Linked DNA regions of Homo sapiens. The protein of the gene in region 3 interacts with the protein of the main gene of each other region in a pairwise test. Each region holds a gene or a part of one and is shown on either strand. Other genes may lie near its edges.

Region 1 (3,752 bases), about 15 Mb from region 3:
TTTTGTATTTTTAGTAGAGATGGGGGTTTCACCATGTTGGTCAGGCTGGTCTCAAACTCCAGACCTCAGGTGATCCACCTGCCACGGCCTCCCAAAGTGGTGGGATTACAGGCATGAGCCACCACGCCCAGCCGACATGTCATTTCCATTGTATTAGGTATAAGTAATCTAGAAATGATTTAAAGTATGTATAGGTTATATGCAAATATTACACCATTTTATCTCAGGGGCTTGAGCACCCACAGATTTTGGGGTCCTGGAACCAGTTCCGTGAAGATACCAAGGGACACCTATAACACGTCACACATCAGGTCATGGTGACGTCAGGCTTTGATGGCCCCAGAGCGTATTGGACCTGGGTTCATATCACTAGTGGCACGATGGGCAGTGCCTGGGAATGGTGCAACAGGTACAACAGAAACAGGGTACAGGGACTGCCTGAAAATCGCACTTGGGTCCTAATCCTAGAATTGCCAACTGTGAGGGCCTGAGAAGTTGCTCTCTGTCTGTGCCTCAGTTACCCCACGAGTCTAGGTGTGGATACCACTGCGGGGGGAGGGGCAGGAAATCTCACCCACCCAGTCACTCACATCCTCTCTGCTCCACCTGGCTTTCCTCAAGTGCCCCTCCCCTAACTCAGCATCCCCAAGAGGCCACCTCCTGGACAGATAAGGATGAAGTTCACTGGTCCTGGACAGTGGACCCTCTCCTCAGCCCCACAGCTCCCAGGCAAAGCACCTGCAGCTGGCACCGCCTGCTTCCTGGGTGTTCTCAGCAGGCTGTCCGCTGCCATGGCTTGCTGGGAAGGGGAGTCTGTCTGCACAGGAGTGTTCGGCTCCCTGGTGAATTACCTGTGCATGTGGCCCCTCCTGTTTACCCTAAATTGAGGGAGTATAGTGTATGCTTCTACTGAATACAAGCACTCGCATACAGAAACAGGGATGAGGAGGCGAGTCGCAGTCTCTCATGCCACCCTACACCGCCAAAACAGCCAGAGGGGACAGCAGCCTCTTCAAGACCCTAGCTCCGTTATCTTCCACTAGGTGGCACCCCCCAACTCCGAGTGCCAAGGGGAGAGGAAATTCCCAAAAGGGGAGCCAACCTAGCTGCAAATGAGCAGGAAAAAGTGGCTGGGAGAGGCGGAAGCTAGCTCGTCCCACCCGCAACAAGAGGAAGTAAGGAGGAGCCAGACCAGGTTCAGTCACCACTCCCAAGTCCCTACTACCTTCGAGAAGCCAAGGTCTCAGGTCTCGTTCCCAGGCCCTCGGAGCTCCCAGCCCAGGGTCGCGCGCCCCTCCGGCTCCAGGCCGCCGCGGGAACCACCCACCACCACCAGGAGAGGGGAAGAAGCCAGCACCTACCGACAGGGGTGGAGCTGGGTCAAGAATGGTGTGGTCCCTGCTTTGGGGGAATGCTGGGGAGGTAGAAAGCCCCTTCTAACGGGGCGTCACTGCAATTACTGCTTCCTCTTTCCCATAAAACTCCCCCTAGTGTATCAGAACCCCCAAGGAGTTTCAGTAAGCGGTTCTTCTGTTGTCTCCGGCTGAGACTCCAGGGGAACCTCAAGCTCACATGGCCCTGGCGGGCCCCTGGGCAGGAGCAGGCGAGAGGTCTGCGCGGCCGCTCTCCTACCTGCGTCCGACTCCGCGGTCCTTGGGCAGCAGCAACCGGGTAGCGCTCAGACTACAGACCCCAGCGCGATGACCCGCCTACCTCAGTTTCCATTGGCCAGGGATCAGGGCTACCCGCTCCCATTGGCTACTTATCAATATAGAGGTGGGGCCAGCCTGGAATGCTGTGTTTCTTTTCTACTCAAATCACTCTCCTCCCTGCTTCCTCTCGCCCCACACCCCATTTCTAGGGATCATGTGATTGGAGAATCATGTGACGTCGGGACAGCCTCAGCAGGGCAGCTGGTGCTCGTCGCCTTCCTTAACCCATCCTGCAGGCGCCTGGGGGAGTTTGCTAGAGATGATAGCGCGTGTCTGGGGCATTGACAGTGCGAGGGAGTGTTATGAATTGGGAATATTTGTGCTCGCCTTTCTATCCTTTTGTTTGTTTGTTCTGAGACGGAGTCTCACTCTGTCGCCAGGCTGGAGTGCAGTGGCACGATCTCGGCTCACTGCAACCTCTGCCTCCCGGGTTCAAGCGATTCTCCTGCCTCAGCCTCCCGAGTAGCTGGGACTACAGGCGCGCACCACCACGCCCAGCTAATTTTTGTATTTTTAGTAGAGACGGGGTTTCACCATGTTGGCCAGGATGGTCTCGATTTCTTGACCTCGTGATCCGCCCACCTCGGCCTCCCAAAGTGCTAAGATTACAGGCATGAGCCACCGCGCCCGGACTTGTGTGTTTGTTTTAGAGACAGGGTCTCGCTCAGTCGCCCAAGCTGATCATAGCTCACTGCGGCCTGCAACTCCTGCTCCCAAAGCGATTCTCCTACCGCAGCCCCCCAAGGCGCTGGGATTACAAATGTGAGCTACTGAGCTGGCTCGCTCCTATCCTATCCTGCCCTGTCTTGTCCTGTCCTGTCCTGCCCTATTCTGCCCTATTCTCCAAACTCGGTTGACATGCTAGGCAGGCCCCAGAGTGAGTTGAAGGATGGTTTCCAGGACAAAGATAAACAGCCCCAAAGCCCTTTCCTCAAGGTGCTCAGCAGGACAGGGAGCAGGGATTGGTGGGAGACAGTCTCAGGCTGAATCTAATTTAAGATACAAGGTTGTGCGCCAGTTGCCAGGTGTAGGGAGAGGAAGTAGATTGTCTCCAGGTGGGGAAGAAGAGATTTCATTCCACCTTAGGAGCATCTCCTTGAGCTGAGTCTGGGAAGATTTTAACTGGCAGGTGGAGGAGGAGGTGTTGGGAAGAGCCCTGGGAAACCAGATGGGAAGGGCAGGCTTGGCAGGGATTGAATGCCATGTTCAATGCCAGTGGGCTTCAGGAGCTGCTGGGTGCCTGGCACGGGCTGGGCTGTGGTGGGGGCTGTCGAAAGAGAAGTGGCTTCCTAGTCTCCAGATCGGCCCTGCCTTCGAGGAATTGATATGGGAGGGTGAGGAGAGAAAATGTACCACAGAACAGATTAGCCAGTGACAAGAGTCAGCCTGCTTGGTGCCAAAGGGCCTGGGCCAGGCAGAGATGGATGATGGGAGATGGGCCAGGAGAGAGGAGAGGCCCAGGGAAAGCCTGATACTGGGCCGTGGAGGAACGGCAGTGTCTGCACAGGGGATGGAGACTGCTGCAGCCTGAGCAAGGAACTGGAGCTGAGGATGAGGCAGGGGCAGGGGGATGGCTAACCAAGCTCGAGGCAGCAGAAGTCGGAGGAGGGAAAGGGTGCCAACCGAGCTGTGGAGTCGTGTGGCAGGGGTTCTAAGCCTGGAGCTAGAGCAGACCCAGACAGCGGATAAGACACCTGGCCTGCTGAGGACCTAGTACTAGTCTGTGCCCTGGTGACACATTTGTGCTTATTTTCCTTCCTGTGTATCTTGAGACTAGGGAGTATAGTTTATGCTTCTATTGAAACACACACACACATGAAACTTTCATGAAATGTTAGGTGAATCGATCAATAACCTACTAATTACAACCACCCAGAACCAGAAAAAAATACAGGTAGAAGAAAAAAAACCTAAACAGACTGAAACAAATATCACAAAGTCTAATCGTCAAAGCCGTGATTCTTGAGCAGCGGCAATTTTGCCGGCCAGGGACATTTAGGAGTGTCTGGAGACAATCTGGGTTGTCACAACTCAGGGTGG
Region 2 (3,752 bases), on a different chromosome or scaffold from region 3:
ATTGAACCCTTGGGCTTCCTAGTCATTATTATTGAAGCAGAAATACATTTTTGCTTCTTTTGTCATCTTTAATCCCCAACATGACAAAATAAAATATTTTGACTTGTTGACTTGCATACTCATCTTTGCCAACAAATGTAACTCGTGGCCTTCAATGCCTTCTTCCTCTTTCTTTTCACTTTTGTAGCCATTAACCAAACTTATTCCTTCAGTAAGAAACTTAATCCTTGGAACCTTGCTTTCTTTGGTTCTATTCCACAAAGGATCAAAAGCATAATTTTCCTCAAACACTACAATAATTATTTTCTTCCTTTACTTATGAACAGTTGGTAACTTTCTATGGCCGGTTATGTCACTTTTTATCCTAAGAGTTAATATTCTCCCTTCCTCTGACTCTTTCTCTTTTAGCAATCTTATTTTCTCCTGCTCTTCGGCAGTCTCTGCTACTTCCAAGCCATCTGGTTGTTATTGGCACATGGGATTTGCTTTTAACTTCTTTCCTGCCCATGCAGATGTCACCTTTGAATTACTGGGAGCCCACTGTTTCCTGAGTCAGTCCATTTCATCTTTGGATAAGTCCATTAAGGAGTTTTTCTCTTTGTTACATAAACCATATAAATCAACTATATAATTTTTACATTTATCTTTGTGTGTGTTACGCAAAGACCTAAGGAGGTCTTTTTCTTAGTTGTTTTGCATATGTGTGCTATGTCTACATATGTGGTGCTTTGTTTAACCTGCAGGCAAGGATCTTTGCATCAGGCACTTCTGCATTTCCATACCATGATCCATCCTCCTACAACTCCAGACCCACAACAGTATAAGCTCTAACTTTTGGCATAGTACATGTTTAATGGATGTTTGATGTGTAGGATACCTTCTAAATGCAGAACTATTTATATGTAAAAGTATATATATTTATACTTATGAAAGGATAATAAAATCTTTAGGAAATGATTCTGTGAATTTTAATTGTAAAGCTAGAATACAAGTCTGATCATGTGCATACTCACTGCCCCCACACAGTAAAATGCCTAAACATTTCCAATTGTTTAACTAAGAAAACATTACATGTTGTATATGTATCTATAATTGGTTAACAGAGAAGATGTTACATGTTATATATCTATCTAAACCTAAGTGGCTTGGTTTTCTCTATGTGTAATGTGCTATTATTTTCTATATCATAGATTTAGTTCTACCTGTGAAATTTCATATAATGCAGAAAAAATATTGATAGTTTTGCCTGTATTTTTCAATGTGAATATGAAAAAATACCTTGGCATTGTTAATCCAAAAATACATTTATAGTTTTCAAATAGTCTATCTAGCAGAACACTTATTAGTATCTCTAAATTATTAACATCGCTGAATATTCTTGCATTTTAAACTATTTCAAAAATTATTTCCATAACAATTTTAATTGAATCTCCTGTGATGCTATTTTGGTAATTGTAATCAGCAGTATCTTACAATTAGATTTTAATCAAAACCTTTAATGCTATAATGTGTAATCTGAGAGAAGACAGTTATATATCTATGTGGGCTTCTTCTCCTGACCTCCCTCTACTCCATCCAAGAGATGCTATAACCAATGTGAAAACAGATCATGGAGAGCAGAGGTTGCTTTCCATTTGTCCCAAGTAATGTGGAAAATATCCAGGGGTAGCAAGATAGGGTCATGATCAGTTAAAGTCTGGTATAAAGATAAACCTGGTGATGGACTTCTCACTAAGGCTCTTTACTTCCTGTGTGATCAATAAACACTGACTGACTTATAGGACAGTTGCTTAGGGTTAGGAGTGCACCTCCTGGTTATGCAGGAGATTGAAACTGGGGGCACAACTGGCTTGGGGTAAGGGGGGTGTGGCACAGGTGTGGGGGAAGAGTGGGGAGGGCTCGCCTACAGCCCACATTACTCTATTGTGCTGCTTTGCAGGTTCTGAATTATCAGCAGTGAATTATTCTTTTTCAGCTTTTATTATTACTAGATTTCTTTAAAGCCCACTTTTATGTCTGCCCATTAATCATTTATGTAATTTTAGAAGGCAATAATGCATGAGGCACAGAGCTAATTATGCATTCTATTATGTCGTTAGATATCTGGATGAAAGTCATGTTCCAAGACTCAATCCCTTCCCTAAAACTCATTTCCACAAGTGAAGATTTAATGATCTATTTATTTTAAAGGTTTGCCTTTGGGGACAAAGATTATCCTGGTTAGCTCCACTTGAAAGAATAGACTTTTATTTCATGGAATCTGTAAGCGTTTAGAAAAATCACTGTGGACTTTGAAAATATATTTAATACAAAACGTGTTGAAACCCATGCTTTGGCTATCCCTAGGTAGAAATGATCCTCTTTATACCTATGCAGATTATGAGAGCCATAATGTCCTCAGTTCTCATATTCCATTGAGTAAACACAGAACTAGCAAGCTGTGGAAGCAGTGTGTATGAGGGCAAATTGTAGCTTTGTTTTTTAATTCTACAGTCAGTATGTGTGAAAAAAAGGATGATTTTTAAATGATAACAATTCTTAAATGTGATAATTGCTAATGAATTTACTCTGATCAGTTTTGTTCTTTTACCATTCATAGCTAATTTATCACATTACATATAACCAGGAATGCAAACACTAGCCTCATGTATACCTCTCAGTTTGATCTCTTAGTTTTTCTTTTACTCTTCAGGTATGAAAAACCTCATTCTTCAGTAATTACATCCACAGCTCCTAGGTATATGTCATATATTTGATTATGAAGAGATATTTTCCTCTGCTTCTAACAGCAGAGTGCAGTATTTTGCAAGGAGAGTTGTCTTTGTGATTTAGCATATATTCATTTCTGTTCTACTGTGCTTTTTGTGTGCTTAGAATATAGTTCGATCAAAATGTGTGCAAAAACTTTTCCACTCTAAACTACATGAATATTTTCTAAAACTTAAGTCAAAAATAAGACCGCAACTGAGTTCTGGCTTTAGTGACAACGAAGGCAAAATGGATTTTAGGTGGGCAAGGACTGTCTCCTAGATGTCAGTGTCCATTCCGGAGCCACATTTTTGGCAGAAGATTTCCTTGTTCTGGGTCAGGAAGCCTTTACCCACCAAGGAGACAGAGCATTTCCCGCAGTTAAAGCATTCGCTATGCCACTGGCTGTCTTGAAAGCAGATAAACTTGGCACCTGTGAGACCTGTAAAGGAATTGGAGAAAAAGATTAATCTATCCTTTCAAGGAACAGATTGAGCATTCTAGCAGATGCTCCTCTAGGAACTGGAGATAGAGCTATGAGCAAAACAACGCAGAGGCAAATAACCCAAAAAAGAATGCTGCTTCCTGGCCCTGTGTCCATCTGGAACTATCCACTGTAGGAAAGTTACACCTATGCCACCCAACCAGATTCACAGCCAAATTCTGCCATAATCAACAGAAGAAGGCAGAATGCTAATATGCAAGTCAGGTATTTTTGGAAACAGATAAGGTTGTCTAAGCCAGATAAGACAATACAGTGTAGCATAGTGGAAAGAAGGTATAGGTTGTGAAGTCAGAGATATCTAAGTATGAATACATTTCCCCTTTTTCTCTATATGACTTTAAGTTTTCTTAGCTGCAAAATGAAGATAAAAGGAAATAAATGTATGCTTCCTAGTTTGATGTCCAATGTTGTAATGAGTTTTAGTTTTCTTCTTTCCCCTCATTTTTCTGTGCTTAGTTGTACTTAGAATATGTCCTGGGGTTATACGGTTTGGGACACT
Region 3 (3,752 bases):
TCCCCGCCCCGACTGCCCGCGCCTCCCGCCGCACCCGGGAGCGGGAAACGCGGCCGCTGGCGCGCGGGGCCCTGCGCAGGCCGCTCCCCTCGTGGCCGCTTCCCTCCCCCACCCCAACCGCCCCCGCCCCTCACCCCAGGGACCCGCCCGGGGCCGCGCGCCGCCACCGGGTTACACAACCCCGGCCGGCGACGGGGGGGGGGGCGGCCGCGGTGCGGGGGGCGCCGGCGCCCCCGCAGTGCAGGGGGCGAGGCTGCGGCCGGTGGTGATCCCGGGTCACCCGGCTCCGCCGCCCCGTGTGGCCCTCGACACCCTTCCCCCTCCGCTCCTCAGTGGGCCGGAGTCGGTGACAGGAATCGGCTTCCAACATGGCGGACAGGAAGCGGCCCCGCGAGGAGGAGAGAACATTCCAGCCGCGCCGGCTCTGGGGGGAGCGGGCGCGGGGCGCCGGCCTCGGGAGGAGCCGCGGGACAAGACTGCGGGGTCCGGCGCCCAAAAAGGGCGTTTAGTGGTGGAAATGACCCGTGAGATGAGGGGTCCCAACAGCCCCCCCCACCGAGACGGGGAGCCCCAAGGCCACAGGTGGGCTTGGGGTGGCGGGTGAGGGGCACTTCCTCAACTCACCCTACCTACCCACTCCTCGCCGCCTGCAAAAGGGTCTCGCGACACCATCCGAGTCGGGATTCGCTAGGCCTTCCTGAGTTACACCTCGAGGGATTTTTTGGGGGGGTAGGTTTACCCCATCTCAGGGCCCCCAAATTGAGGTAACTCCAGGGACGCAGGGAGGTGAATGGGAAAAGAATAATGAGGTTGGACTTGCAAGGCCGACCCAGCAGGTCTCCCTTCAGCCGGGGCCGGGGCCAGGAAGGTCACGCTGGCCTGGCTGGGCCTCTCCCATGCTGGAGGGAAGGAGAGGGCGCTGCAAACCCCATTGCTCAGCCCGAGCTCTAGAATGAAAGGGGCATCCCCAGAGCCGGAGGGGACACACACACACACACCCCGACCCCGTCCGCGCTTTTCGGATCCAGCCCCACCCCCATCTCTCCTGTCCTCCACCCCCAACCCCCTTCCCCCACCCGTCCTCCCTCCCAGACCTGTTTTCTTCTTCGGCGTTTCCTGGTGCTGCTGGAGGGTGTGTTTCTGCTCATGTTTCAGCGGCTTTGGCTGGGCCTTGGGGCTGCCCTCGGCTCCATGCTGCAGGTATTGGTGAGGCTGCTGGTGATGATGGTGGTGGTGGTGGTTGTGGCTGTGGTTGTAGAAATAATAATGGTGGTGGTGGTGCGGCTGCTGCTGCTGCTGCTGAGGGTGATGGTGCGGATGGTGGTGGCTGTGATGGTGCTGAGGCTGTGGCTGGCCGGGCTTCTCCTCCATTGAAAGCGGCTGGGACTCCCTGGCTGAGGCTGCGGGCTGCTGCACCGTCAGGATCTGAGACTGCTTCTCAGGGCTCACTCAGTATATCTGAGCGCGTCTCGCCAGCGCACTGGTTAACCGAGCGATTCTGCGAGATTGGCAGCCGCACTCCAACAATCAGGAGCCACGCTGTGCCGCAAGCCCCGCCCCCAGCTCAAATCCTCTTTCCTTCCCCTTCGCCGCTGCCGCCTGGCCAACGCCACTTACCCTGTGCAACCTCACAGGGCCGGGCCTTCAACGTCAGCACTATGGCTCTCTCTTCTGTCGCTTTCTCTCCTTCACCACGCAGTCTGTGAACAGCACTTTCTACACTCCTCGCCGGCAAGCAGGCTCGTGTCGAGGGTAGCAGATTCCACTGGCGATTCCACTGGTGCTGTGAGCCATCTGCTGGCTTTGCACCTCTTAGAATCTGGTGTTTTTTTGTTTTTTGTTTTGTTTTGTTTTTAATCCTTTTCCGGGTAACCAGAAAGGGAAGCTCAATTCCCTTAACCCCGAGACCACTAAAGGGGCAATACAAAAAGAGGAAATAAATACATTTTTAAGCATACAAGAGCTTCACAATCCAGTAGATCATTTTGTATTCTGGATTCATTTTGCTTTGTATTCATATGCTAATCTCTTCCTTTCCACGAAGGGATTATAGGGTTCCACAATGGGGTATCTGTGTAATTTTCTAAAAGGGCACAAAGGGTTTAAATCATTGTTTCTTTGTAGTTGGAGGCAAGGGAGAGCAGGAGGAATGAAAATTTACACTGAAGGTTTTTTTTTTTTTAATTAAACTCTGCAGGTGAGGTCAACTGTGGAACCAAAATAGGTTTTAGAATGAGAAGTTTCAAGAGCAAAGGAAGGGGAGAAAGAGCACTTAAAAGTTATTAAGTGGGTTTGTTTTTTTTTTTTTTGGCACTTATGGAAAAATTGAAATTAAAAGAAATATTCTGTAGCGTTTTGTAGTGTAGATTTAACTTATCCTGCATTACCACATCACAGTATATGATTTTCAAAAGCAAATGTTAGAGCCATGATAGTGGTTACTCAGGAAGGAAGAGGGTTGTGATGGGGAGGGACACAGGTTACTCTGATAATATTTCATTTTGGGGGCTAGGTGGTGATTACATATATTTGCTTAGTAATTATTTGTTAAACTGAATATACAGATAAAATGCACTTTTCCCAATGTATGTTATAGATTGGGGGATTTTTTTAATTGTAAAATATTCATAATATAAAATTTACCATCTTAATATTAAGTGTATGGTTCAGGTGCATTAGGTACATTCGTATTGTTGTAGAACCATGACCATCATCTATCTCCAGAACTTTTTCATCATTCCAAACTGAAACTTCATACCCAATAAAAATAAATGTCCTTTCCCTCCTCCTTCCATCCCTTGATAACCACTGTTCTGTTTTCTGTCTCTACGAACTTGACTATTCTAGGTACCTCATATAAGTGGGATTGTACTGTATTTGTCTTTTTGTGACTAGCTTTTTTGCATAATGTCTTCAGAGTAGCATACATCAGAATTTCCCTCTTTTTTAAGGCTGACTAATATTCCATTATATGTATATACCACATTTTGTTCATTCACTCAGCAACGGACATATGGACTGTTTCCTCAATGTATGTTACGTTTTTGAATTTTTAAAATGTGGCTTGAATTCCTACAACAGGACAACATTAAAGGAACAAGAAGCTTGAAAGCAAAAAGTTTATGCTATGAAATTAATGAATGTCAATGCAAAAGCTTATTTAAAACGTAAAAGCTGGTTTCCAATAACAAATGTCATTGAATCCTGAAAACCATGACCAAATTTTGGCATGTTCTATACAGTAAGGATTTGTGTTGCCTTGTTAAATTTTATTTTATTTTATTTTGAGATGGAGTTTTGTCCTTGTTGCCCAGGCTGGAGTGCAATGGCATGATCTCAGCCCACCGCAACCTCTGCCTCCTGGGTTCAAGCAATTCTCCTGCCTCAGCCTCCTGAGTAGCTGGGATTACAGGCATGCGCCACTGTGCCAGGCTAATTTTGTATTTTTAATAGAGATGGGGTTTCTCCATGTTGGCCAGGCTGGTCTCGAACTCCTGATCTCAGGTGATCTGCCCACCTCAGCCTTCCAAAGTGCTGGGATTCATGAGCCACCAGGCCCAGCCAGCTTTGCTAAATTTTAAAGAAAAACCTCTTTGGGGGTACATTTACCCAATTTTGAGAATGAAAACCCTAATAATAATATCATATCACAATAAGTCTTTACCACTGAATAATATTCTGCCACGTTCCCAATTATTAAAGAAAAAACAGGTCAGGTGTGGTGGCTCACACCTGTAATCCCAACGCTTTGG

The links.
Region 1: the proteins of NUFIP2 (region 3) and GRN interact in binary tests that used the Homo sapiens proteins (3 or more experiments, as listed by UniProt).
Region 2: the proteins of NUFIP2 (region 3) and FHL5 interact in binary tests that used the Homo sapiens proteins (3 or more experiments, as listed by UniProt).

Annotation. Positions count from the first base shown.
Region 1 is NC_000017.11:44,343,215-44,346,966, reverse strand, and holds the start of GRN (progranulin precursor), read right to left. Parts: upstream 1,666-3,752; 5' UTR 1,633-1,665; intron 1-1,632. UniProt on the Homo sapiens protein: Secreted protein that acts as a key regulator of lysosomal function and as a growth factor involved in inflammation, wound healing and cell proliferation. Regulates protein trafficking to lysosomes, and also the activity of lysosomal enzymes.
Region 2 is NC_000006.12:96,615,047-96,618,798, reverse strand, and holds the end of FHL5 (four and a half LIM domains protein 5), read right to left. Parts: intron 3,191-3,752; coding exon 3,027-3,190; 3' UTR 173-3,026; downstream 1-172. UniProt on the Homo sapiens protein: May be involved in the regulation of spermatogenesis. Stimulates CREM transcriptional activity in a phosphorylation-independent manner.
Region 3 is NC_000017.11:29,292,689-29,296,440, forward strand, and holds the start of NUFIP2 (FMR1-interacting protein NUFIP2), read right to left. Parts: upstream 1,461-3,752; 5' UTR 1,372-1,460; coding exon 1,095-1,371; intron 1-1,094. UniProt on the Homo sapiens protein: Binds RNA.